Linked DNA regions of Homo sapiens: regions 2, 3, 4, 5, 6 and 7 are each linked to region 1. The links come from fine-mapping of genetic effects on gene expression. A gene starts in region 1. Each other region holds a variant in brackets. All regions are shown on one strand. Distances are from middle to middle.

Region 1 (4,064 bases):
TGTTTGAATTTTCTTTTTTTCTTTTTTTTGAAACAGAATCTCTTTGTCTCCCAGGCTGGAGTGCAGTGGCGCGATCTCGGCTCACTGCAAGCTCCGCCTACCGGGTTCACGCCATTCTGCCTCAGCCTCCCGAATAGCTGGGACTACAGGCGCCTGCCACCACGCCCGTCTATTTTTTTTTATTTTTAGTAGAGACGGGGTTTCACCGTGTTAGCCAGGATGGTCTTGATCTCCTGACCTCGTGATCTGCCCGCCTCGGCCTCCCAAAGTGCTAGGATTACAGGCGTGAGCCACCGCGCCCGGCCTTGAATTTTCCTTTCATCTCTGAAGGCATTCATAATTACTTCCAGTTTCATGTTATCTATAAATTTGATAAACATCAGGATCCTTAACCATGTCATTTATAAAAATTTTACTCAGGAAAGGCCGGGCGCGGTGGCTCACGCCTGTAATCCCAGCACTTTGGGAGGCCAAGAACGGCGGATCACGAGGTCAGGAGATCGAGACCATCCTGGCTAACACGGTGAAACCTCATCTCTACTAAAAACATAAAAAGTTAGTCGGGCCTGGCGGCAGACACCTGTAGTCCCAGCTACTCGGGAGGCTGAGGCAGGAGAATGGCGTGAACCCGGGAGACGGAGCTTTCAGTGGGCCGAGATCACCCCACTGCACCCCAGCCTGGGCGACAGACAGAGTGAGACTCCCTCTCAAAAAAAAAAAAAATATTTTACTCAGGGAAGAATTCTATGCCATGGTGGCCTTTGTTTGATAACATACATTATTAACGTGCACTCCTGTAGGTGCACTAAAAACTTAGCTCATGCACTTTGTATATCCTTATAATGGTCCAAAGAAAACACACTGATTCTTTTCAATGGTGGCCAATGCCTTGCCAAAATGAAATAATTTCCATAAACCTTAAGAAGGAAATAATGTCAGGATTTTGAATCAACATCTGTTTCTACTGACCATTTATTTTTAAATAGGTTCTAAAATCCTGACAAGGGCAGTAGCTCATGCCTGTAGTCCCAGCACTTTGGGAGGCTGAGACGAAAGGATCGCTTGATCCCAGCCAGGAGACAAGCCTGGGCAAGAGCGAGACCCCATCTCTACAAAAAACAGAAAAATTAGCCGGGTGTGGTAGTGTGTGCCCGTTGTCCCAACTACTAAGGAAGCTAAGGCAAGGAGGTCACCTGTGCCTGGGAGGTCAAGGCTGCAGTGAGCCGCGCTACTGCACTCCAGCCTGGGCAACAGAGTGAGACCCTGCCTCGAAAAAGCCAAAACAAAACCGGTAATACTGGCATCATACCAGCCTGCACTTTGGGACAGGTGATGGCTGGGGTGGGAAGAAACGTGAAGAGGAAATGAGAACACAGAGAAAACGCTGCAACAAGAAGTCCTCTGGCTTCACTGCAGACAACTGGTTTCTCCTTCGCCCGTTATCTTAAACAAGGCTGGTGCAGCAAATCTGACGCAGCACTACAGCTTTTAAGATTTACCTTGATTCGTGATTTTACCAAGCAAAGGAATGCAGTAAATTGACCTGCTTCAAACGTAGGTAGAAGTGAGAAATGGAAACAGAAAACCATGAAACAGCCCTAGTGTTGCAGTGAAGCTGTGACAGGTTGACTCCTTCCACTCGGGAAGCCCAAGATGGCCGGGCCAGGAACCCGGGAGGCTGCTGAAGTCTCAATTCCCCTCGCCCTAGGCCTGCCCAAGGGAAGTCAGGAGCCGCGCCACGCCCCCTTACATCACCGATAGACGTAATCCGGGTCGGCCGCAAACGTGCCGCAGGCCTAGGCCCCGCCCAGTGCCCCGCCCCTCCCCCAACACACACACACACACACACACACACACACACCCCAACACACACACACACACCCCAACACACACACACACACACACACACACACACACACACACACACACACACACACACACAGCGGGATGGCCGAGCGCCGCACGCGTAGCACGCCGGGACTAGCTATCCAGCCTCCCAGCAGCCTCTGCGACGGGCGCGGTGCGTAAGTACCTCGCCGGTGGTGGCCGTTCTCCGTAAGATGGCGGACCGGCGGCGGCAGCGCGCTTCGCAAGACACCGAGGACGAGGAATCTGGTGCTTCGGGCTCCGACAGCGGCGGCTCCCCGTTGCGGGGAGGCGGGAGCTGCAGCGGTAGCGCCGGAGGCGGCGGCAGCGGCTCTCTGCCTTCACAGCGCGGAGGCCGAACCGGGGCCCTTCATCTGCGGCGGGTGGAGAGCGGGGGCGCCAAGAGTGCTGAGGAGTCGGAGTGTGTGAGTGCGCGCAGGCGGGGCGGGGTGGGGACCGGGCGGCGAGCCGGCCGGGGGCGGGGTGTAGGTGATGCTAGGTAGTCTGTGAGTTGATAGTAGATACTGGGACTTTTTTTTGTTTTTGAGAGAAAAGGGGAGTTATCCCAATGCGAGTTTGCATCCGGAGTTCCAAGGGAAGAAGAAGGATTGGGGGTTTCTGGGAGGATGGTAGAGCCGCTGGAGATGGAAAGCGGATGTTTTATTCAGAAGTCGGGGCTGGAGGGAAGGAGACCAGACCTGCCTTGGCTACTACTTGATAAAGATTTACCTATCTCTGTCTCCCTCTCCAACCATTTTGTGCTGAATCTTCAGCTTTTCACCCACATTTCTTTATTGGGCTCCCCACCTCTGGAAATCACAGAACTAACCCATGTCTTCTGCTTTCTTTCAGGAGAGTGAAGATGGCATTGAAGGTGATGGTGAGTAGCATCTTTTACCCCATTAGGACAAGAGTTTTTTTTAACATAAACTCAGGTCATCTATTTCCAACATCGACATTCTCACACACTGTCACGGATTTAGGGCCACAGAGTGCCTTTTTGTAACATAGTGGTTAAGAGCATAGGCTTTAGCAGTATAGTCTTCAGCAAGTTACCCTCTGAGCCTGTTTCTCCTTTTGTAAGTGGGGACTATAATTTTATCCACGTTGTAGGTTGATGTCAGAATTAAATGAGACTCTTAGTCTGACCTGTAATAAGCAGCCAAAAAATGTTTCTGGGTTTCTTTTTTTCCACATATTTCTGTTTTATTTCAGCTGTTCTCTCGGATTATGAAAGTGCAGAAGACTCGGAAGTGAGTATGACAGGTTTTTTCCTATGGTATAGATCAGAAATGCTTTTTAAAAACGTGTACACACCTTCGTTGCAAACGTACCATGACCTCCGTGTTTATCCTCTTGTGTATTCTTCATTTATGCTTCTGAAAAAGTGTTACAGAAGGTCTTGTTCACTTTAGACCTAGGGAAAACTTGGGGCACGCCGTCTCAAGCCACAGGTGTTATACTGTTAGTTGGCTTCTCTTCCTGTCTGAAGAATATGAGGTTCTAAATAAGAGAGTGAGGATATCTTGAAGTCCTCTGAAAGATGTTTGACAGTTTGTTTTATGCAGTGTAGGTTGAGAAGCCAGCCAATTGGTTATTTTTTTCCAAATCTATCTGAAGACTTTGAAAGGGTAGGATTCGGAATGTTTTGTGCCAAGAGCATCCATCATTTTATAGGTGGGGATTTTTCTGTTTTTAGGAGAAAGTTTCCTGTCTTTTGGATAAACTACTAGAGATGCCATCAGAGTAAGTGTTTGTTTCCTGGGTTGTTGAGTGGACTCCTGAGTTCTGGTAATGGGATTATATATAGGGGGAATTGGATGGTGGATCAAAGATTTTGTCTATACATTTTTAGAACTGTTACTACATTTTAGAATCTGTTAAGCCCTTGAGGATGGAATAGTGAACACTATAACAAAATTCCTATCTTTAGAGATCTTACAACTCAATAAGGAAGTCAGACAAACATTCAAGCAATTGTACCACTTGCTGATAGGGGATAGCACTGGGATAGGGCTAAGTAGGGTGTTACAGCTGGGTACTGAATCCATCTTAGGCAGTCGGGAAAGATTAAACAGTTGGCTGGGTAAGATGTGTTCTAGGCAGAGAGAACAACAGTCAAGAAAGCCCACAGGGGCCGGGAGCAGTGGCTCACGCCTGTAATCCCAGCACTTTGGAAGGCTGAGGCAGACGGATCA
Region 2 (4,064 bases), 200 kb after region 1:
GGCTTCCACTACTACTCGGGGGTGAGAGTCCCGGGGTGTAGTGGAGGTCCTGTCTCTACCTTTCACTTAACCCGTGTTGCCCTTGCTGGACAATTGAACCCTCCCGGCCGCACCCTCCCCCCAGTAACCCTAAGTGCAATTTGTGTTAGATTAGGGCTGAGGAACTTTGAGAGTTCCTTCTTTCAAGCAACATTCCTTCATCTCTTGTTTCACTTCTTCCAGGAGAAATGAAGCCCAAGCCCCTTGCCCCCAGTTTATATCTTCTTGCCTGGAATCCAACAGCTTCACAGCAGGCTGGAGGGTGGGGTAAAGGTCCTGTCTGTGTGGGTTTGTCTGCTCCCGGGGGAAGGCCCCCCCGCCAGATCCCACTTGCCAAAGCCCGAGGGAGAGCCCCTTCCTGTGCGACAGCTGCTGCCCCCAGCCCTTGCTCTTGCGTCATTAGAGTGGGTGTCAGGGGAGCACTCAGTGTCTTTGGTATTGACAGTGGGGTGTGGCAGAAAGGGGCAACTTCATCAGACACCCGTCTGCCATCCTAACCTTCCATCTTGGCAAGGGGCACTGGGTCCTTATGGGGTTGTTGTCCTGGCCCCAGACACTTGGCTGTCATCTTTGAGGCTTTCATCCCCAGGAGTGGAGGGGAGAAGCTGCTCTGGTGAGAAGAATCCCTCTCCCCCTAATCCTAATCCGGTTTGTTCTCTGGGGAATGAGTTTGTTTTTGTGGGTCTGGGGCTGCTCTGGAAATGAGGACTGCATCCCTTCCCAGCTCCGCCACCGAGTCCTTTTGTTACCCTGACTTCACTTGGGGATAGGGCCAGGTCCTGGGCTGTGCCTTCCTAAGAGGGGCACTGATGAGAATCCTAGCATCCTGGCAGCCTGGTCACTTTCTCTCCTTGTTGCCCCCTGCCTGGGTGCAGGCTCCTCTGGGAGGAAGGGCTCTGTGCACACTCAGGAGCTCGGAGCACCAGGGTGTACACCTGGGCATTTTCCTGCGCAGCTGTGAGGCAGTGTACACTGGGTGGGCGGGAGCAGGCGCAAGGGGGTTATTGTTAGATGGCTCAGGTTTCTTCCCCTCCTGGGCTTTGGGCTCTTTGCTGGAGGGGAAGCTCTTCCGTGGAGGATCTCCCACCTTCCTGGACCTGCTGCCTCCCTCCTGCCTGCCAGGGAGGAGGGGTGGAGTGGGTCTCGGGGGGGCCCTGGCAGATTGGAGAAGGTTGAAGGGCAAAGGACTTACCCCACCCCTCTTGCTGGGAGAAGAGAGACCTGAGATGGACAGACAGCCCACCTCTGCCCTCCCAGAGCCACTTCTATCCCAGCTTTTCCTATTGTCCTGCCCCCGACCATTTCCTCTAGGGCCGAATCTGCTGTGTGGCTGTAGACACAAGAGGGAAGGTATCACCCTTGACTTTGGAAGAAGAGAGAGTGAGAGGATGACTCTAGGACCCTTTTTCTCATTCTCCCAGTGCTGGAGCAAGACCCCCCTCCCCTAGGGGGATAGTTGGAGCAGGGCTGCCAGAGTCACCCCTTCCACTGCCTTGGCCACCTTCTCCAGAGGGCTGGAGAGAAGCTGGGATCTGAGACCTTGGTCTCCAGCCCCTGTCTCTTCTTAGCCCATGGGGACAGCTCAGCTCTTCCTGGCCCAGAACTGGAGAGGGAGGAGGATCACAGAGAGTAGGACAGGCAGTGTATTGGTGAGCCCTTCCCCTAAACCACTGGACATGGGGAAGTGGAGACCTGTCCCCACATCCATTCTGGGGTGGGGTAGTAGACCTAGAGG[C/T]CTGGGTTTCCAGTTCCCGTAGTCTGAGCGTGGGTGTGCATATATAAGTGAGTGAGGTGTCAGTGGACTCGGGTCCTGAGGCTGTGAGGTTGGGAGTGATGGGGGTCTGGGGGCTTGCCTTGAGGCACAGGAAGGACCCGGAGTCTGAGGGTGGCAACTAGACTCAGTCTAGAATATGTGGGGCCAATGCCACCACCTTGGAAGGGTCCCCTTGGGTGTGTGGAAGTCCGCTGGTGACTGGAGCTGCCTCCAGCCCCCTCTTGGGGAATTCTCCACTCTCCCCTTTACTGCCACTGAAGGTGGGAAGAGCAGGTTGGCTCTGGGAGGAGGTGGCCTGGGTTCTGCAGGGCCCTAGGGACATTGCCTCCCTCCCCAGAGCCCTCATTTCGGTGCATTAGAGGACAAGGGGGGTGCACAGGATGTGGCTCCCCATCTGTCTCCCACCAATCTCCGCCACTCACACCTCCGCCCGCTCCCAGACGTCCAAGAATGTGAAGCACGTGGATGCCCGTAGTTGGGGGAGGGGGAGACGCTTATCAGGCGGCCGCTGGGCTAGGGGCCTTCTTCCGCTGCCGCGGTACACCCAGAGCTACCCCCGCCTCTCCCCGGGAGGAGGAAGGACGGTACAGAGGGCCCTACGCCCCCTCCCCAACCATCCCCAGGGGCTGCGAGGGGAGCTGCGGAGGAGCGGGCGCCAGCTGGATTGGGAGGGGAGCCGCTGGCCGGGGGCCCGGCTGATTTCCTGCTGATCTCCTCCAGGAAACCGGCCCCTTGTGCGAGCCTGCGAACGGCTCGGGGGCGTGGGGAATCCGGAGTGGAGCGCTCTGCGCCGCCCGCCCTGCCAGGATGGGGAGCGAGGGAGGGGCACCCTGGCAGCGTCGGCGGGAGGGGACGCCTGGCTTCCTGGGTCAGTTCCAGTCCTCTGTTGGGCGCTGGAACTTTGAGCTGAGAAGGTGTGGTCCTTCTCTAGCCCGAGTCCTTCTGCAGGAAGAGGAGAGATTGGTGGGCTGGGCCTCTGGGGAGGGAGGTTAGCAGGGATGGGCCAGGCCCGGGCAGTCCCTCCCCCGTTGGTGTCCCTCCCCACTCCACCTGTGTGTGCAGGGAGTTATGGCCGTGTCCTAACTCTTGCAGAGGCTGTGAGGATTCCGGAGTTCCCCACACCTCCGGCCTTGGTCCTTGTACCTCACCTCCTTGGACTGCTGGCTGGAGGCCTGGGGAGGTGGGGCATCGAGCTCTGGGTTCAAAGGGCAGAGCAGGGAAACCTCAGAGCTGGGTTACCTGGGTGACAGGTGGGGATGTGCTGGAGGTAGGGGGCAGGCTATGTTACAGCCTCCAAGGCAGTCAAGCTGCCGTTGGGTGGGCTAAAAGGAGGCCTTGCCCAGCCTAAACTGTAGTCCTTGCCTCTGGTCATCTCTCCCATTCTGCCAAAAAATAATTTTAAAAAGCACATTCTCTCAGTTCCGTAAACACCCTCTGTTGGACTTTGCTTTAGCTCCATGTTTTTATGGCTTTTTGCCCTCTAGTCTGTCCCAGGCCTTAGAGCTGTTTACCTCTCATCCTGGTATCCCCCATGACTCCCCATACCCTAGCTCCCCTCGTGACATCCCGCTCTGTACCCCCAAAGCTCCCTCAGTCCTTTCTCCCTCTCCAGTCTGGTTCATTTTAGAAGTGGGGCCTTGGGAGAGGCGGGGCCCAGGGCAAACGGTGGATTAGGAGGGGTGGGGAGGTCAGTGCCTTCTTCCTCTGCTTGTCGGAATGCTGACCAAGATTCTAGGCCATGGTCCCCCCAACCCTCCACATACCCCCTTGCCCTTGATCTCCCCTCCCCCCACCAGTCTGGATTGTCTATTGTTACTGCTTTTACGTCTTGGAAAAAGTTAGCACAACAAAGGGCTGCTTTGTGGCTCACCCCCTCTGCCTCCTGGCCTCACCCAGGCCCCCCAACCCCGCCCCCCCAGCAGCTGTTCTCAGGCCTCTCAGCCTGTCTGATTTGCTTGTCTGGCCTGGGGAGAATGAGGTGGGAGAAAACCAGGCCAGGGCAGTTGGTGTTGGAGTGAAGAGCAGACGGCGGTGGGGAGGTCAGGAGAGAATCTGCTGGGCTGGGGATGGTGTGGGCATCAACTGTCCCATTGCTGCAGGCTGGTCTTGGGGCAGGGAAGGGGATGGGGGGCCATAGCAGTGCTGGTCAGCCAGGCTGGCCTGGGAAGTGGTGCCCAGGCACTACTAAGAGCCAGGAAAGCCCTGCCAAGGTTGTTGGCCTAGTTCCCTGTCATCAGCCGCCTAGCAGCCC
Region 3 (4,064 bases), 26 kb before region 1:
AGCAGCTCACCCACCCAGAGGAGGCCCTGTTCCCATCACCCAGCCCATAATTAGGGCATTCTTGGCTCTTGTCTGGAATGGGAGGATCTGAGTGCTCTGCCAACATCATGAAGAACTCAACGGGAAATGGAGTTGGAGTAGAGGTAACCAACTTTGCAGCTGGAAATTAAAATTTTATTCAACTCCACCCCCAAGTAATTTTATTTGATGACATCCTTCTCTTGCATTTGTCTCATCGTTTGATTGTGTAATCCTTAGCCAGGGAGCTATGTAGATATGAAATCATTTTAAACAGAGGCAGCTGCATTCCCCTATTGTACCTGAGCCCTCATCAGCTTTCCTCCTCTCAAGCTGCTGCCCCACATTCACCCTGAAGGGGGCACTTTTGTTCAGTCGTTAGCTGGTGCCAGCTGAAAGCGAGCTCCAGGAAGGAAACATAACAATTGGTCACATGTTGGGGTGAGGGTTCTCGCAGGGGCTGCTGGGACAGGGAAGGGAGGTCCACGTGGAGTGGGCGGAACGCGCTGAAAGTTTTGGCGGGGCTAGCAGAGGGAGAAAAATACCCAAATTTGAGTTGTGATTTTTAATAGGGGGAAAAAAAAAAGGCAAGGAGGGTGTGTCCTACCCTCTGAGAGGCCCCCGCAGAGGGGAGCAGGAGAGCAGCACACTAGCATCCTGCTCGCGGAAGCCTGGAACGCAGGACATGGTTTCTGCCAGAAAGAGCTGAGCCAGGCCAGGCTGCGGAGCTGGAAGCCTCTGTGGCTCCACGCTGGCTTCCCATCCCCCATCCTCCCGGAGAAGGCAAAGGTGGCCTCTCCAACTGTGGTGTCCTTTCAGTGTCACAGGACTGGGGTAATACCAGTCACACAACTCCAGTCTCTATTTACCTTTCCGAGAGCTTCAGGAAACCACCCAGATGAATCCTCTTTCCCTGGGGAGTGGCCAAAACAAGTCTCCTCTTTTTTCTACCTACTTCTGCCCCACTGTTAGCTGGAAAACGTAGCTTTATACAGTCATAAAGCTGCAAGGGACCTTAAAGATGATTTATTTCCATTTTATTTTTTGGTCTGGGAAAACCAAGCCCAGTCAAGTGAAAAGTCTTGCTGCATCCTCTTTCCACGACATAGGCATTCCCTTCAAAGAATGTAGGTCATAGAAATGGAATTCTGCCATTCTATAAGCCTTAGAGGGGTGGTGAAAGTATTGGCTTTTAACTCTTTCCATACTCTTAGCCAGAAGGCAAAAAGAATGGTCATTATCTCATTAGGGACAGAATTGCTTAGGGAGGCCCGACACTGTGGCTCAATCCGGACACGGTGACTATAATCCCAGCATTTTGGGAGGCTGAGGTGGGCGGATCACCTGAGGTCAGGAGTTCGAGACCAGCCCGGCCAACATGGTGAAACCCCCGTCTCTACTAAAAATACAAAAATTAGCCGGGCATGGTGGCAGGCGCCTGGAATCCCAGCTACTCGGGAGGCTGAGGCAGAAAAGAATTGCTTGAACCCAGGAGGTGGAGGTTGCAGTGAGCCGAGATTGCACCACTGCACTGTCCAACCTGGGTGACAGAGCAAGGCTTCGTCTCAAAAAAAAGAAAAAAAAAAAAGACTTAAGGACTTGATTTATGGTCCTAAACACAGTTTTCCTAGGCTCCCTCACAGCTGGCAACTCCACTTTGCCCCTCTGGGCCTTTGAGAGCTCCCTTCTTTACATTTCTTAGTTCAGGGATCACCACAGCTTAAAACTTAATGGTTTGGAAACAAGAATTCCTTTCCCTTCTTAGAAGACCTTCTCTTCTCAGGTTTCAGTTTTCTGGTGGTTTAGCCAGGTCATCCTGTGTATTGAGATCAAGATCAGACCTCCAATCCAAAAATTCCAGCTTTGGCTTTGGTGGGGAAAAGCATGTTTACTTAGTCTGGAGCAGTGAAATCCTAGACTTTGGATTTCAGAGCTGTAAAGTTTCCAGAAAAAAAAAATGTTGAGACCAGGCACAGTGGCTCATGCTTGTAGTCCCAGCACTTTGAGAGGCCAAGG[C/T]GGATGGGTCACTTGAGCCCAGGAGTTTGAGACCAGCCTGGGCAACATGGTGAGGCCCCATGTCATGTAAAAATTAGCCAGGCATGGTGGTGCATACCTGTAGTACCGGTGACTCAGGAGGCTGAGGTAGGAGTATCACTTGAGCCTGGGAGTTCGAGGTATGATAATGTCTGTGAACAGCTACTGGACTCCAGCCTGGGCAACACAGCCAGACCCCGTTTAAAAAAAAAAGTCAACCAACCCCAGTTGTAGAGTCCCAAGCAGTGGTTCTCAAACTTGAAGTACATCAGAATCACCTGGAGGGCTTGTTAAAACACCACGTGCTGCATCTCACCCCACAGTTTCTTATTCATTAGGTCTAAGGTGGGAAGCCAAGAATTTGCATATCTAACAAGTTTCCAGGTGATACTGAAGGTGCTGGCCTGGAACCACAATTGGGCTAGAGAGGAAGAAAACATATAATTTATTCATGGAATTGCCAGCTGGTTAGTCTTAGAAATTTGACGGTAAAGCCCTCCTTCTCCCTCACCCCACTTTCTATTGATCAACAAATGCTGCCAATTAGTAATAATGTGATAACTACATTATCAAGCATTACTAGGTGCCACATGCTATGATAAACATTTTACATGGATTATCTCATTTAATCCTCACAATAACCCTGTGAAGTAAGGTATTAGTATAGTCATTTTACAGATAAGCAACCTGAGGTAGAGGTTAAATAACACACAGCCACTAAACGGGAGAACTGTGATTGCTATTTGCAGTTTCACACCAGAAACTTTGCTCTTAACAGCTGAGTCTCCTCCTGTCATTCCCTCTATATCCCCATACTACTAGTATCTTAACCACTCATCATCTCACACCTGCACTAACAGCCTTCAAGTTGGCCTCCGGCTTTTGGTGCAGAGACGCAAATATTGAAGTTAGCTTTCAGATACACAAATCTAATCATTCTATACTTTGGTGGAAATCCTCTGATGTTTCACCAAGGCTGATAAATTATACATTCCTTAACTGGGCCTTCAGACCTTCATAATCTGGTCTCAATCTGTTTTATCCCCTACATGCCCCACTATCCAGAACTACACTCCAATGAACTTCTCCCATTTTCTACAGTTACATCCTATTTTTTTTTTGAAACGGAGTTGCGCTCTTCTCACCCAGACTAGAGTGCAGTGGTGAGATCTCGGCTCACTGCAACCTCCGCCTTCTGGGTTTGAGTGATTCTCCTGTCTTGCCTTAGCCTCCCTATTAGGAGGGACTACAGGCACATGCCACCACGCCCAGCTAATTTTTTTTTTTGAGACAGAGTCTGTCTCCCAGGCTGGAGTGCAGTGGCGCGATCTCGGCTCACTGCAAGCTCTGCCTCCCAGGTTCATGCCATTCTGCCTCAGCCTCCCAAGTAGCTGGGACTACAGGCGTCTGCCAGTACGCCCAGCTATTTTTTTTAATTTTTAGTAGAGACGGGGTTTCACCGTCTTAGCCAGGATGGTCTTGATCTCCTGACCTCGTGATCTGCCCGCCTCGGCCTCCCAAAGTGCTGGGATTACAGGTGTGAGCCACTGTGCCCAGCTGCAATGTTCTTACCTCTGCCTGAAATGTCCTTTGATCTCAACCTTCAAGGCCCACCTCAGTTGTCACTTCCTCCTTAATTCCTTCCAGATGGTATGTTCAAATTTGTTCCTAGACAAATTTACTCTTCTCTAGGTTTCACTATTTTATTAGAGACAGAGTCTTGCTCTATCAACCAGGCTGGAGTTCAGCAGTGTGATCATAGCTCACTATAACCTCAGCCTCTCGGGCTCAAACAATCCTCCCGCCTTAGCCTCCCAAGTAGCTAGGACTACAGGCATGCACCACAATGCTCGGCTAATTTTTTTTTTTTTTTTTGAGACAGAGCCTCACTCTGCTACCCAGGCTGGAGTGCAGTGACTTGATCTTGGCTCACTGCAACCTCTGCCTCCCAGGTTCAAGCGATTCTCCTGTCTCAGCATCCTGTGTAGCCGAGATTACAGGTGTGCGCCACC
Region 4 (4,064 bases), 270 kb after region 1:
GAGGCGCGGGTTGCAGTGAACTGAGATCAAGCCACGGCACTCCAGCCTGGGAAACAGTGAGAAGCTGTCTCCAAAAAAAAAAATTAAAAATAAATAAATAAAATTAGACACAAATAAAACAAATTGAGACACTTGTCCTCATCAAGTTTAAGACACAACATAGAAGACAGACATAGCTGGGTGCAGTGGCTTACGCCTGTAATCACAGCACTTTAGGAGGCCGAGGATGGTGGATCAAGTGAGGCCAGGAGTTCAAGACCAGCCTGGCCAACATGGTAAAACCCCATCTCTATTAAAAATACAAAAATTAGCTGGATGTGATGGTGCATGTCTGTAATCCCCGCTACTCAGGAGGCTGGAGAATCCCAGCTACTCAGGAGGCAAGGAGAATCGCTTGAACCTGGGAGGCAGAGATTGCAATGAGCCAGGATTACGTCACTGCACTGTAGCCTGGGCAACACAGCAAGACTCTGTCTCAAAAAAAAAAAAAAAAAAGACTGGGCACAGTGGCTCATGGCTGTAATCCCAACACTTTGGAAGGCCGAGATGGGTGGATCATTTGAGGTCAGGAGTTTGAGACCAGCCTGACCAACATGGTGAAACCCTGTCTCTACTGAAAATACAACAACAAAAAAATTAGCCAGGCATGGTGATGCATGCCTGTAATCTCAGCTACTCGGGAGGCTGAGGCAAGAGAATCACTGAAACCTAGGAGGCGGAGGTTGCAGTGAGCCGAGATCGTGCCACTGCATTCCAGCCTGGGCGACAGAGCGAGACTCTGCCTAAAAAAAAAGACAGAAATAAAATAAGTTACAGTGTTATAAGTGTTATGGATAAGCAAAAAGTTTGCTAATAAGGTATGTTCAATATTATATTGGAACCAACTTAGGTGGGGGGAAGGGTAGAAAGTAAAGGCTTTCCTGAGGAAAGGACAAGACCTAAAGTAGCCAGGTGAAAAGGATGTATTTCATGCAGAGGGATTAGCATGTGAATAAACTCTGAGGAGGGGAAGAGCACTGTGCTTTTCAGTAATTTAAAAGCAACAGGACAATATACGAAAAACTGGCACTGAGATGAGTTGGAGAAGTAGGTGTAATTAGATTACAGCAGATCTTTCTTGTTGGCCAAATTATGGAATTTGGACTTTCCCTGAGTGGAAGTCATTGAAAGATTTCAAATGAGAGTGAAGATAAAAATGGGTGTTTTAACACAAAAGTCACTCAAAAGCATTCCAAGGAAAGGACTTAACCAGTATGAAGGTTAAGAACCTATTGTAGTAAACCAAAAAAGAGATAATGGTGAGAAGCTACTGCAGCATCCAAGAGATGATTCTTATTGACCGGATTAGAGAGGAGGGGAAATAAAGGAAGGCTCCCAGCTTTCTTGTTTATACAACCTAGAGGTTGGTTGGGGCTTTTTACTAAGATAGGAAGTTGTTTTTTTGTTGGAGAGTGGGGGGCTGCTTGTATGGGCAAATCAGTGAGTATGGAGGTAACAAATTCAATTTTGGATGTGTTGACTGAAAGCAAGTCTTAGGCATTTAAGTGAGGGTGTTTGTTAAACAGCTAGATTAATTCAAAAGTGATCTAAGCTTAATGGTAAAATGTAATTGGGAAATACTGAAATATAGACGGTCATTAAGTCTTTGGTAAATCAGTTAAAGTAAAGCCCTTTTTTACTTCCTTTTCAGATTGGGAAGACTTGGAGAAGCTCACTATGAGAAGAATCATTGTTTCTGCAGAGCTAAGAAGTGCAATGGAAAATAAAGTCAGGTGTTTCTATTTTTATTTTCCTCTAAGTACTCACAGCTTTGATAAATTTTTCACTCAATTGGCATGT[T/C]GATCCAAAGCTCTTGGGTTGTAAAGTCATGTTTTCTTTTGTCTGAGAGTCAAAGGTTGGGTTTTCAATTAAGGCATTTACAAAAATCCACATGTGATTTTTCACCTGCAATAGAAGTTGATATTAAGCCACTAAAAATGTACTCATGCTTTATTTATAGCCTTTCTCTTCTTCCTTGACTTTAGAAAAAGAAAACTGCCAAAAGCACATACCTGATGTGCTTTTACTGCAACACCACCCTTGTTCTTCTTCTTCACAACATCAACAAGTTTAGTCACAATCTGATCAGCTACATAATCAACATGTCTGCCACCCTAATAAGGAAAAATACCAAACTGTAAAACTCAGTATCCTCAAAATTATAATAATCAAACATTAAAAACTAATTTAACCTCCTTTATACTAAGCTAGCCCAATATTCAAGTCCACTTTATATATTAAAAACAATAAGAACACATATATGTAAAGATAAATCATGATTAATAATTTAAGAATAAAATTACCTTGGATGTAGCAATGCTGTTGACAAAGCTAATTTGCTGAAAGCCTTTTTCACTCATAGTTAAACACACTTCCCACCTGTGGTTTACTTGTTCATGTATTACTTTCAAGGAGTTACCAGTTTCATCCAACTTGTCCTTCAAATACATGTCCACATAACTACGAAATCCTTTTACCTGTACAGGAATTAAAGGTAACAGTATTAAGAAAGTTATTAAAAAATAGGTTCAATGATAGACTATGAGGACTTTCCAAAACCAATGCAATGATGTTCACTGATAGGCATAAGGGAATGGTCATTAAAGGACACAGGCCGAGGTGGGTGGATCACTTGAGCCCAGGAGTTCAAGACCACCCTGGGCAACATAGTGAGATCCCCACCTCTATTAAAAAGAAAAAAAAAAATTAGCTGGGCATGGTGGTGCTGCCTGCATTTCCAGCTACTCCAGAAGCTGAGGTGGGATGATCGCTTGAGCCTGGGAGGTCCAGGCTGTAGTGAGCCGTGATTGCATCACTGTACTCCAGCCTGGGTGACACAGCGAGGTTATCAAGAAAAGAAAGAAAAAGGAAAATAAAAAAAGGACATGAAATATTTATTTTAGGTGTTTCTTTGAGAAAGAAATTCCTTCGGTAAGTTTAAAATGAGCTGATTAAAAAATGTGGCATACCATTCTCTTTTCAAGAACATATGTGAGAAGTGGTAAGAAAATACATATGGTTGGGCCAGGTGCAGTGGCTCATGCCTGTAATCCCAGCACTTTGGGAGGCCAAGACGGGTGGATCATGAGGTCTGGTGTTCGAGACCAGCCTGGCCAACATAGTGAAACCTGTCTCTACTAAAAATACAAAAAATTAGCCAGGTGTGGTGGCAGGCACCTGTAATCCCAGCTACTTGGGAGGCTGAGGCAGGAGAATTGCGTGAACCTGGGAGGTGGAGGTTGCGGTGAGCCGAGATCGTGCCACTGCACTCCAGCCCGGGCAACAGTGTGAGACTCTGTCTCAAACAAACAAACAAACAAACAAACAAAAACATATGGGAGGGGAAAAAATTCAATTTTGCACTTGACAATGATTACAAAATCCCTTATTATCCTTAACATCCAGGAAAATACTCACTGGCAGTTTATTTCCATTAAGAAAGACTTTGACATCTTTGGTGGATCCAGCAATATCATATGCTCTTCTGACCATTAGTGCAACAATATCTTTGTCCAGGCTTTGCATTTTAAACTTAGACAAATCAGGCTGAAAGGTGATACATGTATAATCTTCTCCATTGAAGGGCTTGAGTTCCATCTCACCAGCTCTTCCCATATTATCCATCCATGTCTATGGAAGTAAAGAATAGGAAACATGAAAAATTCAAGTCATCTCACAAACTGGAAGTAAATAACATAAATTTATGAGTCCTAATAACCTAATATATATGCTTATAATTTTCCATACTTCAATAGCTTATAAATTATGTTAAATTAAACCAATCATTAATGCCATTATAAATGGCTATACTACTACCATTTATCATTAAGGTACAAGACACTTATTTACTTGCCTGTTTGAACATTTTCTTGTATTCTCTACTGGCTGTTTCCACAGTAAATTTGGTACTGAATATGTTACACAATTTGGCTCCATAGCCATTTCGACCACCTGGGCAAATAAATATGAAACACTATTTTATTGTTACTATCTCATTGACAGCTTTATTTCTTAATCACTGGCAG
Region 5 (4,064 bases), 190 kb after region 1:
TGGCAGAGCTGAGATTTGACCCTTCCGACTTCTGGTTCTTTCTCCCATCTTCGTGGCTCAGAAAGCTCTCACCTTTTTCTCTAGGTGTGTGACTCTGGGGTGTAACGCGTGGGCAGCTAGGGATGCTGATGCTGGAGAAGGGATCCTGGCACCTTCTGAGGGTGAGAGCGGCCCCAGTGGGCAGGAGTGTGGGGCTGGTTGCAGGTGCTCTAGCCCCCTACCCCTTTTTCTGCTGTGCTTAGGCTAGGCTCCATATATTGGAGGTGTGGGCCTGTGGTTTTCTCTCTCTCAGGGGAGGGTGCCCGTGGGCAGTGGAGGTGGCTGGCATAGGGTGGAGGTTGGATGTGGGTAGTTTGTTTTCCCTCTCTTTGGTACTGGTTTCGATTCTCTGCCGAGGCCTTCTCCACCCCTGGGGTGTAGGGGGCTGGGGCCCAGGTGTCTCTCTGAGGGTCATAGCTTCTGATGGACCTTCTGAGGCAGAGTCTGTGCCCTTTTGGGCCCACCCTGGTCATCCCTACCCTTGCCCATCCCTGTTCTCTGGTCTTTCTGGCCCTTGGCCTATTTCTGTGACCTTTAGCCCTCCTGCGGCTCAAGGCCCTCCCCAGGGAGCTGAGTAAATTTGCACTGAAATTTGCAGGCAGAGCTGGGTTAGGCTTTTTGGAGGCTCTGATAGGGGTCTGGGGAGGCCTTCCAGCCTTGCCCTGTAGTGTGTGTGGGTGGTGGGCTGGGGGTGAGGTGGGGGTAGTGGGGATTGAAGTTTGATTCAATTTCAAACTCCACTGGGGCAGAGTTGAGGTGGCTGTGGTTTTCTCTTCTCTGGGAGCAAGGGTGGGTTCCAGAGGGTCCAGGCTGGACTGACTAAACTGGCCTCCCGACCCCCAAAGGCTGGGTCAGGATGCCTGAGATCTGGAGTGATGGCTTTCTGGGCCTCAGCGTGGGTTACAGAGGCCTCACTTTGGGTTAGCTGCCCCTTGGGCCTCACCTTGAGAGAGGCAGGCCTCTGTGGATGTGAATTCACCTGAGTGTTTGTGGACCTGGTGCATGGGCTGGGCCCACAGGGAGGACCTCAGAGCATCTTCTGGCAGAAGCAGCAGGTACAAGGGCCACCCTGGCTGTGTGAGGTTCGGAGAATGTACAGTTTGGGAGACTGTGGGGCTGTGGTTGTGTCTTTGGGGAGCTGTGTACTGGGGCCCATGCATGCAGTTTCTGAGCTGTGTTCATTGTGTGGTGGAGCCCAGGTGTGGAGAGATGGTATCTCCAGGTTCCTTCTCCTCACATGCATGCCTGCACACACACAGGCTGGGGCTGCAGGCGTGCTCTTGCCCACCCAGATGTTTTCTGTAGACCTGCATGCATGAGTTTGTATGTGTATTTGTGTGTGAGGGTCCAACTGTAGGAACTGATGAGGTTCTGCCAGCCTCTTCTTCCCTTGCATGGCTCCCCCAGCTCCAGTTCCCGTTGTGTGGGGCCCCACAGGAGTTGGGAGGGGGCCAGGGCGGCAACTGGTCCAGTGGGTGGGGCCCCTGTTCCTCTGACATCAGCCCTCTCAGCCTAGGAGGGAATTGGCAGGGGCCTGGGGTAGGAAGGGAGCTCTTTATTCAGGAGTGAGGAGAGAGGCCCTATGATTGTCATAATGAGTAACAGTAAAAATCGTGGTTATTAGCAAGGTCCAGATTTTACTCCTG[G/A]GGCAGCCTCCCCTCCCTAGCCCAGTACCTGTCCCCTCCCACCCTCTCTCCCTCAGTTCCACACAGGCTGGCTGGCTCAGCTGGGCCAGAATTCCTGGCCTCTTCCACAGTGGCCTTGGCAGGAACTCCCCCTTCCCAGGCCTGGTCTTCAACCAAATGCTGGCCATGTGCTTGTCCCCTGGACTCCAGATTTGAGGCTAGAGTCTGGAGTTCAGAGCTTGGAACCTAGTGTAGCCTGAGCTTGGGGTGGAGTGGCAAGGTATAGGGGGTGTTGGAAATGGACAGTCCTTATTTTGAGTCTCTGTGGCCCTGTTTCTTTTCTTTCTTTCCTCTTCTTTTTAAAACAGCTTTATTGAGATATAATTCACATACCATAAAATTTACCCATTAAAGTGTACAATTCAGTGGTTTTAGTATATTCAGAGTTGTGCAACTACCACCACAATCAATTTTAGAACACTTTCATCACCCCAGAAAGAGCCCCCATACCCAGCAACAGTCACTTCCCATATTCCTCAAATCCACGCCCCAGCTCCTGGTAACCACAAGTCTGCTTTCTGTCTCTATAAATGTGCCTATCCTGGATATTTCATATAAATGGAATCCTACAATACATGGTCTTTGTAACCGGTATAATGTTTTCAAGGAATATCCATATCATAGTATCAGTACTTCATTCTTTTTTTGGCAGAATAATGTTCCATTGTAGGGACATACAACATTTTATTTATTCGTCAGTTGATGGACTTTTGGGTTGATTCCACTTTTTGACTATTAGGAATAACGCTGCTGTGAATGTTCATGTATAAGTCTTTCTGTGGACTTACGTTGTCATATCTCTTGGGTAGATACCTAGGAGTAGAATTGCTGGGTCATATGCCATCGCTGTGTTTAACCTTTTGAGGAACTGCCAAACTGTTTTCCAAAACAGCTATTCTATTTTACATTCCCACCAGCAATATATGAGGATTCCAATTTCTCCACATCCTCGCCAGTACTTGTTATTATCTGTCTTTCTTATTAGAGCTAGCCTAGTGGGTATGAAGTGGTATCTCATTGTGCTTTTTTTTTTTTTGAGATGGAGTCTCACTCTGTTGCCCAGGCTGAAGTGCAGTGACACAATCTCGGCTCACTGCCTCCCAGGTTCAAGCAATTCTCGTGCATCAGCCTCCTGAGTAGCTGGGATTACAGGCATGTGCCACCACGCCTGGATAACTTTTGTATTTGTGTGTGTGTTTTTTTTTTTTTGGAGACGGAGTCTTGCTCTGTTACCCATGCTGGAGTGCAATGGTGTGATCTCAGCTCACTGCAACCTCCACCTCCCTGGTTCAAGCGATTCTCCTGCCTCAGCCTCCCAAGTAGCTGGGATTACAGGCACCTGCCACCATGCGCAGCTAATTTTTTAGTAGATTTTTGTATTTTTTAGTAGAGATGGGGTTTCGGCATGTTGGTCAGGCTGGTCTCAAACTCCTGACCTCAGGTGATCCACCTGCCTCAGCCTCCCAAAGTGCTGGGATTATAGGTGTGAGCCACCGCACCCAACTGACTTTCGTATTTTTAGTAGAGACAGGATTTTGCCATGTTGGCCAGGCTGGTCTTGAACTCCTGACTTAGGTGATCTACCTGCCTTAGCCTCCCAAAGTGGTGGGATTACAGGCGTGAGCCACCGCCCCCAGCCTCATTGTGCTTTTGATTGGCCATGTTTCTTTTTGTCTGTCTCTTTTCTTTTGTCTTTCATATATGTATTTTTCATATATAAATACATGCATATGTATTTATATATAACCTGTACCCAAAATGGATTTGAAACATCCTCTTGTCCTCGTATGGATATGTTCTTCGTGTTCTCTCTCTTTGCTCTTGTTGCTGCCTATCTGTCTCACTGTGTTATGGAATCTCTGGGTTCATCTCTGTCTCTGTCTCTACCCCATGGTATTATCTGTGCATATCCTCTGGTGCCAGCTGTTCAAACAGGGTGTGGATCTGTATTCACACTGGTGAAGGGGGCATCTGGCCTTTCATCTTCTGCCCACCTCCCACCCCAGTTCATGTGTTTTGCTTCTGCAGACAGAAGTATGTGGGTGAACCTTGAGATCAATCTCTCCTTCATTGCCTGGGGGTAGGAGGCTTCCTGGGCGGTCCTTGCCCTCCTACACATCGCCTACCCCTGGACCATCCATGCTGTTAAGCATTGGAGGTGATACCTAGGAGTCCTTGGTTCCCATTTTCCTATTAGTGTGTACGTAAATGGGCCTCCTCCCAGGGCCTGTGGGACAAACCCGTCTGGGGTGCTGGGGCTTGGATCTGGGGGGGAAGTGGTGTAAGAGGGGCCCCCTGGCTTAGGAGTCATTTTTCTGAGAAGTGCCAATGCTTTAGGGA
Region 6 (4,064 bases), 30 kb after region 1:
CGTTCAGTTTCTTTAATGGTGTTTCTTTCCTGTGTTGTGGTACATCATAGGTGGCAATACCTGGTTTTTACTCTATTGCATAAAGAAGCTGTATTCTACTCCTTATCACCCCTACCTCTGTCCTGCTTAACTTCCACCACGTTGACATAATCAAGTATCTGTAGTGTCGCTACTGAACTCAGCCTTTTCCATTTGTCAGCTGATGGTAGGAATTAGAGAAAGCTGGGCAGTACTTTGAAGAAATAAAAACCAGAGCATAATAATGAAGAATTAAGGCAAAAATGAATAGTCACTTTATTTTGAAGGGTGGGCAGATTAGATATTTTTAAAATTATAAATTCCCCAATTCTCTTATGGCTGAATAATATTTCCTGTTCATCATAGGTTGGATGAATTCATTCCTAACTTTTTCTTCTCCTGGCTTGTGGGGTCCCAGGCCCCATCACAGGTATATGGAGGAGTGACCTACTATAACCCCGCCCAGCAGCAGGTGCAGCCAAAGCCCTCCCCACCCCGGAGGACTCCCCAGCCAGTCACCATCAAGCCCCCTCCACCTGAGGTATGAGAGTTCCTTCCTATACTTAATGCACATGCTCCGTCAGTGGGCTTTCCTTCTCCCCAGAGGATTTCCCTCATTTTCTGGGTGTGTTTCTCTGGAAAACAGTCTTTTTGTTATGACCTGATAACAAATTCCAACTTTGTTATTTCAGGTTGTAAGCAGGGGTTCCAGTTAATACAAGTTTCTGAATATTTTAAATCTTAACATCATATAAAAGTAAGTGCACAACTTACTGTGAATATTGTTAAAACTAATGCTCACACTTGCTTAATAAACAAAAATCACTTAATTAATGCTTTTTTTTTTTTTTTTTTTTTTTTTTTTTTTGAGACGGCGTCTCAGTCTGTTATCCAGGCTGGAGTGCAGTGGTGCAATCTCGGCTCACTGCAACCTCCATCTCCTGAGTTCAAGCGATTCTCTTGCCTCAGCCTCCTAAGTAGCTAGGATTACAGGCACGCACCACCACACCTGGCTAATTTTTGTATTTTTAGTGGGAATGGGGTTTCACCATATTGGCCAGGCTGGTCTTGAACTCCTGACCTCAGGTGATCCACCTGCCTTGGCCTCCCAAAGTGTTGGGATTACAGGTGTGAGCCACCCCACCCAGCCTCTGATTAATGCTTTAAGTTATAATAATCATGGGATATCTCAGGAGGCTTAAAGGAGTCCTGAAATTTGCCAGTTTGTTTGTTTGGCAAGTGTATTGGGCAGGGTTGAAGTAGAAACGATTGTTAACATGACAGTTTTCAATTGGGAAGCTACAAGGAAAAAATACAGGAAGGCAGTCAAGGAAAAGGGAAATCTAAATTTGAGATGTTATAGCAGAAAAAACCAGTTCTAAAGATCATAGAGGAGAAGGACTGGGGGTTTTGTTGCTTTTGTTTAAGGACATTACTTAAAACACATTATTTAGAAGTGTGGCTTTTTGAAAACAGCTTGTGAATGCCCAGAAGGCCCACTAACACTTTGGTGGTTCTTCCCTTTTTCCAACCCCTGTCAGAGCAGCAGAGGTGAGAACTCAGAAGAGAAATACAGCTGGCTATCTACTACCAGAAGGGCTTCAAAGATATAGGGTGTGGCTCCTACCAGCAAACAGCTGAAAGAGGAGGACCCCTGCCTTCCTCTGAGGACAGGCTCTAGAGAGAGGGAGAAACAAGTGGACCT[C/T]GTCCCATCTTCACTCTTCACTTGAGTTGGCTGTGTTCGGGGGAGCAGAGAGAGCCAGACAGCCCCAAGCTTCTGAGTCTAGATACAGAAGCCCATGTCTTCTGCTGTTCTTCACTTCTGGGAAATTGAAGTGTCTTCTGTTCCCAAGGAAGCTCCTTCCTGTTTGTTTTGTTTTCTAAGATGTTCATTTTTAAAGCCTGGCTTCTTATCCTTAATATTATTTTAATTTTTTCTCTTTGTTTCTGTTTCTTGCTCTCTCTCCCTGCCTTTAAATGAAACAAGTCTAGTCTTCTGGTTTTCTAGCCCCTCTGGATTCCCTTTTGACTCTTCCGTGCATCCCAGATAATGGAGAATGTATCAGCCAGCCTTCCCCACCAAGTCTAAAAAGACCTGGCCTTTCACTTTTAGTTGGCATTTGTTATCCTCTTGTATACTTGTATTCCCTTAACTCTAACCCTGTGGAAGCATGGCTGTCTGCACAGAGGGTCCCATTGTGCAGAAAAGCTCAGAGTAGGTGGGTAGGAGCCCTTCTCTTTGACTTAGGTTTTTAGGAGTCTGAGCATCCATCAATACCTGTACTATGATGGGCTTCTGTTCTCTGCTGAGGGCCAATACCCTACTGTGGGGAGAGATGGCACACCAGATGCTTTTGTGAGAAAGGGATGGTGGAGTGAGAGCCTTTGCCTTTAGGGGTGTGTATTCACATAGTCCTCAGGGCTCAGTCTTTTGAGGTAAGTGGAATTAGAGGGCCTTGCTTCTCTTCTTTCCATTCTTCTTGCTACACCCCTTTTCCAGTTGCTGTGGACCAATGCATCTCTTTAAAGGCAAATATTATCCAGCAAGCAGTCTACCCTGTCCTTTGCAATTGCTCTTCTCCACGTCTTTCCTGCTACAAGTGTTTTAGATGTTACTACCTTATTTTCCCCGAATTCTATTTTTGTCCTTGCAGACAGAATATAAAAACTCCTGGGCTTAAGGCCTAAGGAAGCCAGTCACCTTCTGGGCAAGGGCTCCTATCTTTCCTCCCTATCCATGGCACTAAACCACTTCTCTGCTGCCTCTGTGGAAGAGATTCCTATTACTGCAGTACATACGTCTGCCAGGGGTAACCTGGCCACTGTCCCTGTCCTTCTACAGAACCTGAGGGCAAAGATGGTGGCTGTGTCTCTCCCCGGTAATGTCACTGTTTTTATTCCTTCCATCTAGCAGCTGGCCTAATCACTCTGAGTCACAGGTGTGGGATGGAGAGTGGGGAGAGGCACTTAATCTGTAACCCCCAAGGAGGAAATAACTAAGAGATTCTTCTAGGGGTAGCTGGTGGTTGTGCCTTTTGTAGGCTGTTCCCTTTGCCTTAAACCTGAAGATGTCTCCTCAAGCCTGTGGGCAGCATGCCCAGATTCCCAGACCTTAAGACACTGTGAGAGTTGTCTCTGTTGGTCCACTGTGTTTAGTTGCAAGGATTTTTCCATGTGTGGTGGTGTTTTTTGTTACTGTTTTAAAGGGTGCCCATTTGTGATCAGCATTGTGACTTGGAGATAATAAAATTTAGACTATAAACTTGGCTCCCTTGCCAGTGTTTTGCATGAGTCTTGATTTGGGAGGGAGGGAAGAGGACTCCCTAATTCCCCCACAGGGTCACGGTCACAACTCAGGTCAGCCCAAGTTGTGAAACAGAAGCCCAGAGAGATGAGGAGCCCCTATGAGGCCATAAATGTGTCTGCACTCCCCATCAGTTATCTTTTTTAACCACATAGATCACCAGGATGTCATGCCATCCCTTAGATTGGAAGTGTCAGGGACAGAAAAGTAGTGAGATGCTGGTTATTCACATGAGCATCTAGTATCCTTTATGGCTTCCTTTGTGTTTGGCAAGTAAGTTTCCCAAGGTAATATGCCATCAGATGTCAATATAACTATACCAAGTCCTGGGTTGGGGGGAAGTACAGGTAGCTAGCTTTCTTGAAAAGTGAAGATGCTGCTGGCCACCGTGGCTCACGCCTGTAATCCCAGCACTTAGGGAGGCCGAGGTGGGCAGATCTCGATCAGGGAGATCGAGACCATCCTGGCTAAACAGGGTGAAACACTGCCTCTACTAAAAATACAAAAATAGCTGGGAGTGGTGGCGGGTGCCTGTAGTCCCAGCTACTTGGGAGGCTGAGGCAGGAGAATGATGGGAACCCGGGAGGTGGAGCTTGCAGTGAGCCGAGATTGCGCCACTGCATTCCAGCCTGGGCGACAGAGTGAGACTCCGTCTCAAAAAAAAAAAAAAAAAAAAGGAAAAGTAAAGATGCTGACACTAAAGTATTCAGGACCACACAGTCTTAGAGAGACTATCAGCTCA
Region 7 (4,064 bases), 220 kb after region 1:
GGAAGGTGACCGGGATGCCACCTGGGCAGAGCTGCAACAGGCTTGACAGGCCTACGGGAGTGCAGGGCAGAGGCACTGAATCACGCTTGGGGCAGGGCTCAGAAGCCTTCCTGGAAGAGGTGGCCTCTCTCAGCTAAATCTCTTTTTAATTTAGTTTTATTTATTTTGAGACGGAGTCTCCCGCTGTAGCCGAGGCTCATTGCTAAATCTCTAGAGGAAAGAATTGGCTAGGTGGGTGCAGATTTGGAAGACTTAGTATGAAAAAAAGAATGTAAACTATCTCCTTAATACTTTTTAATATCAATGAGGCATTAAGATGAAAATACTTTGGGTGTGCTAGGTTAAATAAAATACGTGACTAAAATTAATTTCATTTGTTTCCTTTTACTTTTTTAATGTGGCTAATGAAAAACTTGAAACTACATACATGGCTCATATGCTATTTCCATCGGATGATGCTGATCTTGAACATCTTCTGACACACAGTAGGTACCCTACAAATATTTGTTGAATGAATACATCTGGAAAACAGCGGCACAGCCCCATCTGGGTTTGTGTGGAGGGGTCTGGGTTGTGGACACAGAACTGTCATCAGAGAGATGGTGCCCACCATAGCATGGATAGTGTTCGGGCATGGCAGTGGTGTAGGCCTGGGGACACCTTCAGTTTCTCATCCAACACATATTTACTGAGCACATACTACGTGCCATGGAAGGGGAGAGAGCAATGCCATCCTGCAGGAGAAGTGCTTTCCCTACGGAAGCGAGGGGCATCCAGCTCTGTCTTGGGGTGGGGGCTACCAGGGGAGCCCTCTCCTTGAAGGTGTCTGTTTTCTTCCCAAGTGACAACAATAGGTGGGTGGGCATTAGCTAGGGGAGGAGAAGGCTGCAGGAAGCAGCGGCTACTCTGGGCAAAGGAACAGCACGTTCAAACGCTTGGCAGCAAGCAGGTCTGGTGCTTGTTAGAAGAGAAAATTCCCTATGGTTCTGAGCACACCTGGAAGCCGGTGCTGTGGAGTCGAAGGCCTGACAGGGGCAGGGCTTCAGAAGGAAGCTTTGTGAAGGCGCTTGACTCACCCTGAGGGCAGGGGTGCTGCCCTCAGTCCCGGGTTTAAGTGGGGGGCGCTATTCAGAAACACCTCCCACTGCTGTGTGGGGCACAGGAGAGCTGAGAAAGACGCCAGGAACTCAGAAGGACAGGGTGGGGTGATGGCGGGGAACGCACAGCCTGGTAGGCAGGATGCGGTGAGGCCCGCAAGGTGCAGTCCGATGACGGCCCCTGGATTTCTCGCTTAGGTCCTGGGTGATCTTATGGAGAGCAGCCCACTGGCTGGTGAAGGGGGAGGGCAGACGGGAGGGGAGACACAGGAGGGGGATGCGCTGCATAGGCAGCAGCTCTTCGAATGCCCGCAAGTAGGAAGAAGGGGGTGGTTGGAAGGGAAGGCAGGGCCGGGAGCGCGTGTGTTTTGGGAGCTTTCTCCTGAGGACAGAAGGGACTTTCCCGTTTATAGCCTGGGGGAGCAGTAGCGGCGGGGAGGATGAAGATGGAGGAGGGAGGCATAACACACGTCTGGGTTGCCCTCTGGCCCGCCGCCCACCCCCACCCCACCTCCATGAAAGCGCCCAGCCCCCGCCT[C/T]GCCACAAGGGGTACTGTGAGGATGTTGCTCATAGGCTCCCGAGGATTGAGGCCTGCCCGGGGAAAGGGAGCCTCTCCTCCTCTTCCCTCCCTGGGCGGGGTCTCTTGGGAGGGGGGGACAGACCTCCTGTGATGCCCTGGCAGGTGGGCTGGGTTAGGGTGGTAGGGAGGGAGCCATTGTGGCTGCAGCTGGCATCGGATCCTGGCCACCCCCGCAGTGCATATCAGAGATCACACACACACGCGTGCACACACAGAGGTCACGCCGGATGTACACATGCACACATAGCGCACAAGGATGTTTCTGTGTACAGGTGTGCACACGCAGCCCACACAGAATGGACATGTGCGTGTGTGCACAATGCACTCACACAAAGCTCACAGGGATGTGAGTACACAGCTCTCAAGGGGCATATGTTTCTGTGTGCATGTGCACACAGCTCACCCGGGAGGGTTACGTGTGTCTGTGTGCACAAGTGGGCCTCACGCAGGGTGTACACATGCGCGCACATGCACAGCGCTCACACAGGGTGTACAGGTGCGCGTGCACACAGCTCACAGTGCTTATGTGTCCGTGTATGCACACTCGCAGAGAGCCCACAGGGGGACCACTCTCTCTCTGAACACAGAGAGTGCCTGAGAATGCTGGCATCACAGTTGTTTTTGTCCCCAGTAAAACAACCACTCTCCACCTTCCGCTCTGTTCTCCCCCTCGGGTCCACTCTCTCTCAGGGTCCTGGTCTCCTTCCTTTCCACCTGGGTGGTGGCATCCAGGACCTGCCTGAGTTCATTCTCCGCCCCCAGCCCGGCCTGCCCCAGGTGCCGCCGGCAGCCACTGGGAGGCAGTACGAGGCAAGTGCGATGCCGCCCGCGGGCCGTCCCCACAACGCGTCTCCTGCCGGGGCAGGTCCCGCGACAGCTCTGGTGGAAGCAGCTTCCGGCTTCTGCGGTGCGGGCGGAGGTGGCGGGGTCCGGCCCTCGCCGTCCAGTCCGCGCGAGGCGGTGCCCGCCCCTAGATGGCCAGATCTCGGCGGCCGGTGGCCGGTGACGCCTTGCCGCGGCCGCTGCCGCACTCGCGGAGGCTGGCCGGCGCCGGGTGCGCATAGGCCGGCGGGGCGCACGGCTCGGGGCCGGGGCGCCGGGAGGGCAGGGCCGGTGGCGGAGGTGGCGGCGGCGGCGGCGGGAGCAGCTTCTGCGCCTCTTCGTGTGCACGGTTGCAGCGGTTGTCACGCTCCCCGGCGCGCGGGCGGCCCTTCCAGAGCAGGTGGCCCAGCTCGGCTACGCTGAGCAGCGCCGACAGCAGCCCCACCGCGAAATAGAAGAGCACGAAGACGGTCTTCTCGGTGGGCCGGCTCACGAAGCAGTCGACCGTGTGCGGGCAGGGCGGACCGGCGCACGCGAAGTGCGGGGCCACGCGGAAGCCGTAGAGCAGCGCCTGGCCGCCCAGGAAGGTCAGCTCGGCCAGCAGGCGCAGCGCCACGCTCAGCAGGTAGCAGCGGCGCGCGCGGCGGGCGCGCAGGGCGCACGGCGCGCACTGGGCCTCGGGCAGTCCGGGGGCGCACTGCGCCGCCGCCTCAGCGCCGCCCGCCTCCTTGCCTGCCCGGTGCATGGAGTAGACGACGAACAGCACCGGGGGCGCCGAGAGCAGCAGGATGTGGAAGAGCCAGAAGCGGTAGTGGGAGACCGGGAAGGCGCGGTCGTAGCAGGTCTGGCGACAGCCCGGCTGCAGCGTGTTGCACACGAACTCCTCTTGCTCGTCCTCGAACACGGCGCCGCCCACCGTGGCCAGCACCAGGATGCGGAAGATCAGCATGACCACCAGCCAGAGGCGGCCCACGAGCGGCGACTGCAGCTGCACGGCGTCCAGCAGCGAGCCCAGGAACGCCCACTCCCCCATGGCGCTGGGGACGCGGGGCGGGGAGTCAGGGGATGGGGCAAGTCAGGGACCCCTGCCCCTTCCAAGCCTATCGGGGTGGGGTCCGTTGGACCTTCTCTGACTTCAGGGTGAGTCGTGAGGTAGGAGAGGCCCGGGTTTAGCGATGAGACCAGTATGAAACGGAGGGCCACGGGAGGGCCCGAGGGGAGCAGGCGACGCTCAGCTATGGGTTACCTTCTCTTTGGGACCGATGGGTGCTGGGGAGGATCCCCCATTTGCATTTTAGCCGCACCCCCTGAGCCGTCTCCGTTCGACCCTGGGATCCTCCAGATCCCAGATTCTTAGGAAGGACCTTGGAGATCAGCTGGACCAGCCCCTGACTTGCCTGGTTTCGGAAGCGGAAACCCAGCGGTGCCCTTAGCTGTCAAGGATGCTGTGGGAAGAGTGGAGCCTCGAACCCGAGACGCTAGACCCAATTTGGTGCCCATGGGAGGAGTGGGAGTGGCAGAGGCAGCGAGACCACTCCTTTCTTGGCCCACCATTTCTCTCACCA

Alleles and levels. Positions count from the first base shown, and alleles are read on the strand shown. Sizes are in standard deviations (SD) of each study's normalised expression. Not every link is listed here.
As copies of C replace T in region 2, the expression in nucleus accumbens of the gene that starts at base 2,049 in region 1 goes up (large effect, 0.76 SD a copy in GTEx).

The links.
Region 2: its variant is fine-mapped to the expression of CASC3 in nucleus accumbens (GTEx, PIP above 0.99).
Region 3: its variant is fine-mapped to the expression of CASC3 in subcutaneous fat (GTEx, PIP 0.92).
Region 4: its variant is fine-mapped to the expression of CASC3 in whole blood (TOPMed, PIP above 0.99).
Region 5: its variant is fine-mapped to the expression of CASC3 in whole blood (TOPMed, PIP above 0.99).
Region 6: its variant is fine-mapped to the expression of CASC3 in whole blood (INTERVAL, PIP above 0.99).
Region 7: its variant is fine-mapped to the expression of CASC3 in whole blood (INTERVAL, PIP above 0.99).

What each region holds. Positions count from the first base shown.
Region 1 is chr17:40,138,489-40,142,552 of GRCh38, forward strand. It overlaps CASC3 (CASC3 exon junction complex subunit), which reads left to right and starts at 2,049. Exons shown (of 14, transcript NM_007359.5): 1 at 2,049-2,291; 2 at 2,719-2,746; 3 at 3,082-3,119. The coding sequence starts at 2,061. RefSeq lists enhancers at 1,660-2,600, 2,066-2,365.
Region 2 is chr17:40,342,920-40,346,983 of GRCh38, forward strand. All of the region lies in intron 2 of RARA (retinoic acid receptor alpha), which reads left to right. RARA-AS1 (RARA antisense RNA 1) reads right to left here and starts at 217. Exons shown (of 3, transcript NR_110861.1): 1 at 1-217. RefSeq lists enhancers at 1-209, 1,310-1,860, 1,861-2,410, 2,411-2,961 and a silencer at 2,566-2,615. The variant C/T (reference allele first, on the strand shown) is at 1,775.
Region 3 is chr17:40,112,912-40,116,975 of GRCh38, forward strand. No RefSeq gene overlaps it. Among named protein-coding and RNA genes, the nearest start is that of MSL1, 7.0 kb to the right of the region's middle. RefSeq lists enhancers at 621-840, 861-920, 951-1,738, 1,739-2,524. The variant C/T (reference allele first, on the strand shown) is at 2,035.
Region 4 is chr17:40,409,303-40,413,366 of GRCh38, forward strand. It overlaps TOP2A (DNA topoisomerase II alpha), which reads right to left. Exons shown (of 35, transcript NM_001067.4): 6 at 3,893-3,990; 7 at 3,457-3,669; 8 at 2,343-2,516; 9 at 2,052-2,153; 10 at 1,807-1,944. Among named protein-coding and RNA genes, the nearest start is that of TOP2A, 6.6 kb to the right of the region's middle. The variant T/C (reference allele first, on the strand shown) is at 1,840.
Region 5 is chr17:40,326,391-40,330,454 of GRCh38, forward strand. All of the region lies in intron 1 of RARA (retinoic acid receptor alpha), which reads left to right. Among named protein-coding and RNA genes, the nearest start is that of RARA-AS1, 15 kb to the right of the region's middle. The variant G/A (reference allele first, on the strand shown) is at 1,686.
Region 6 is chr17:40,168,888-40,172,951 of GRCh38, forward strand. It overlaps CASC3 (CASC3 exon junction complex subunit), which reads left to right. Exons shown (of 14, transcript NM_007359.5): 12 at 437-559; 13 at 711-775; 14 at 1,560-3,284. The coding sequence ends at 734. Among named protein-coding and RNA genes, the nearest start is that of RAPGEFL1, 6.6 kb to the right of the region's middle. The variant C/T (reference allele first, on the strand shown) is at 1,724.
Region 7 is chr17:40,360,284-40,364,347 of GRCh38, forward strand. GJD3 (gap junction protein delta 3) reads right to left here. Exons shown (of 1, transcript NM_152219.4): 1 at 369-4,064. The coding sequence starts at 3,532. The coding sequence ends at 2,648. It overlaps GJD3-AS1 (GJD3 antisense RNA 1), which reads left to right and starts at 2,562. Exons shown (of 1, transcript NR_186704.1): 1 at 2,562-4,064. RefSeq lists an enhancer at 2,374-2,668 and silencers at 2,496-2,565, 2,686-2,765, 2,796-2,905. The variant C/T (reference allele first, on the strand shown) is at 1,636.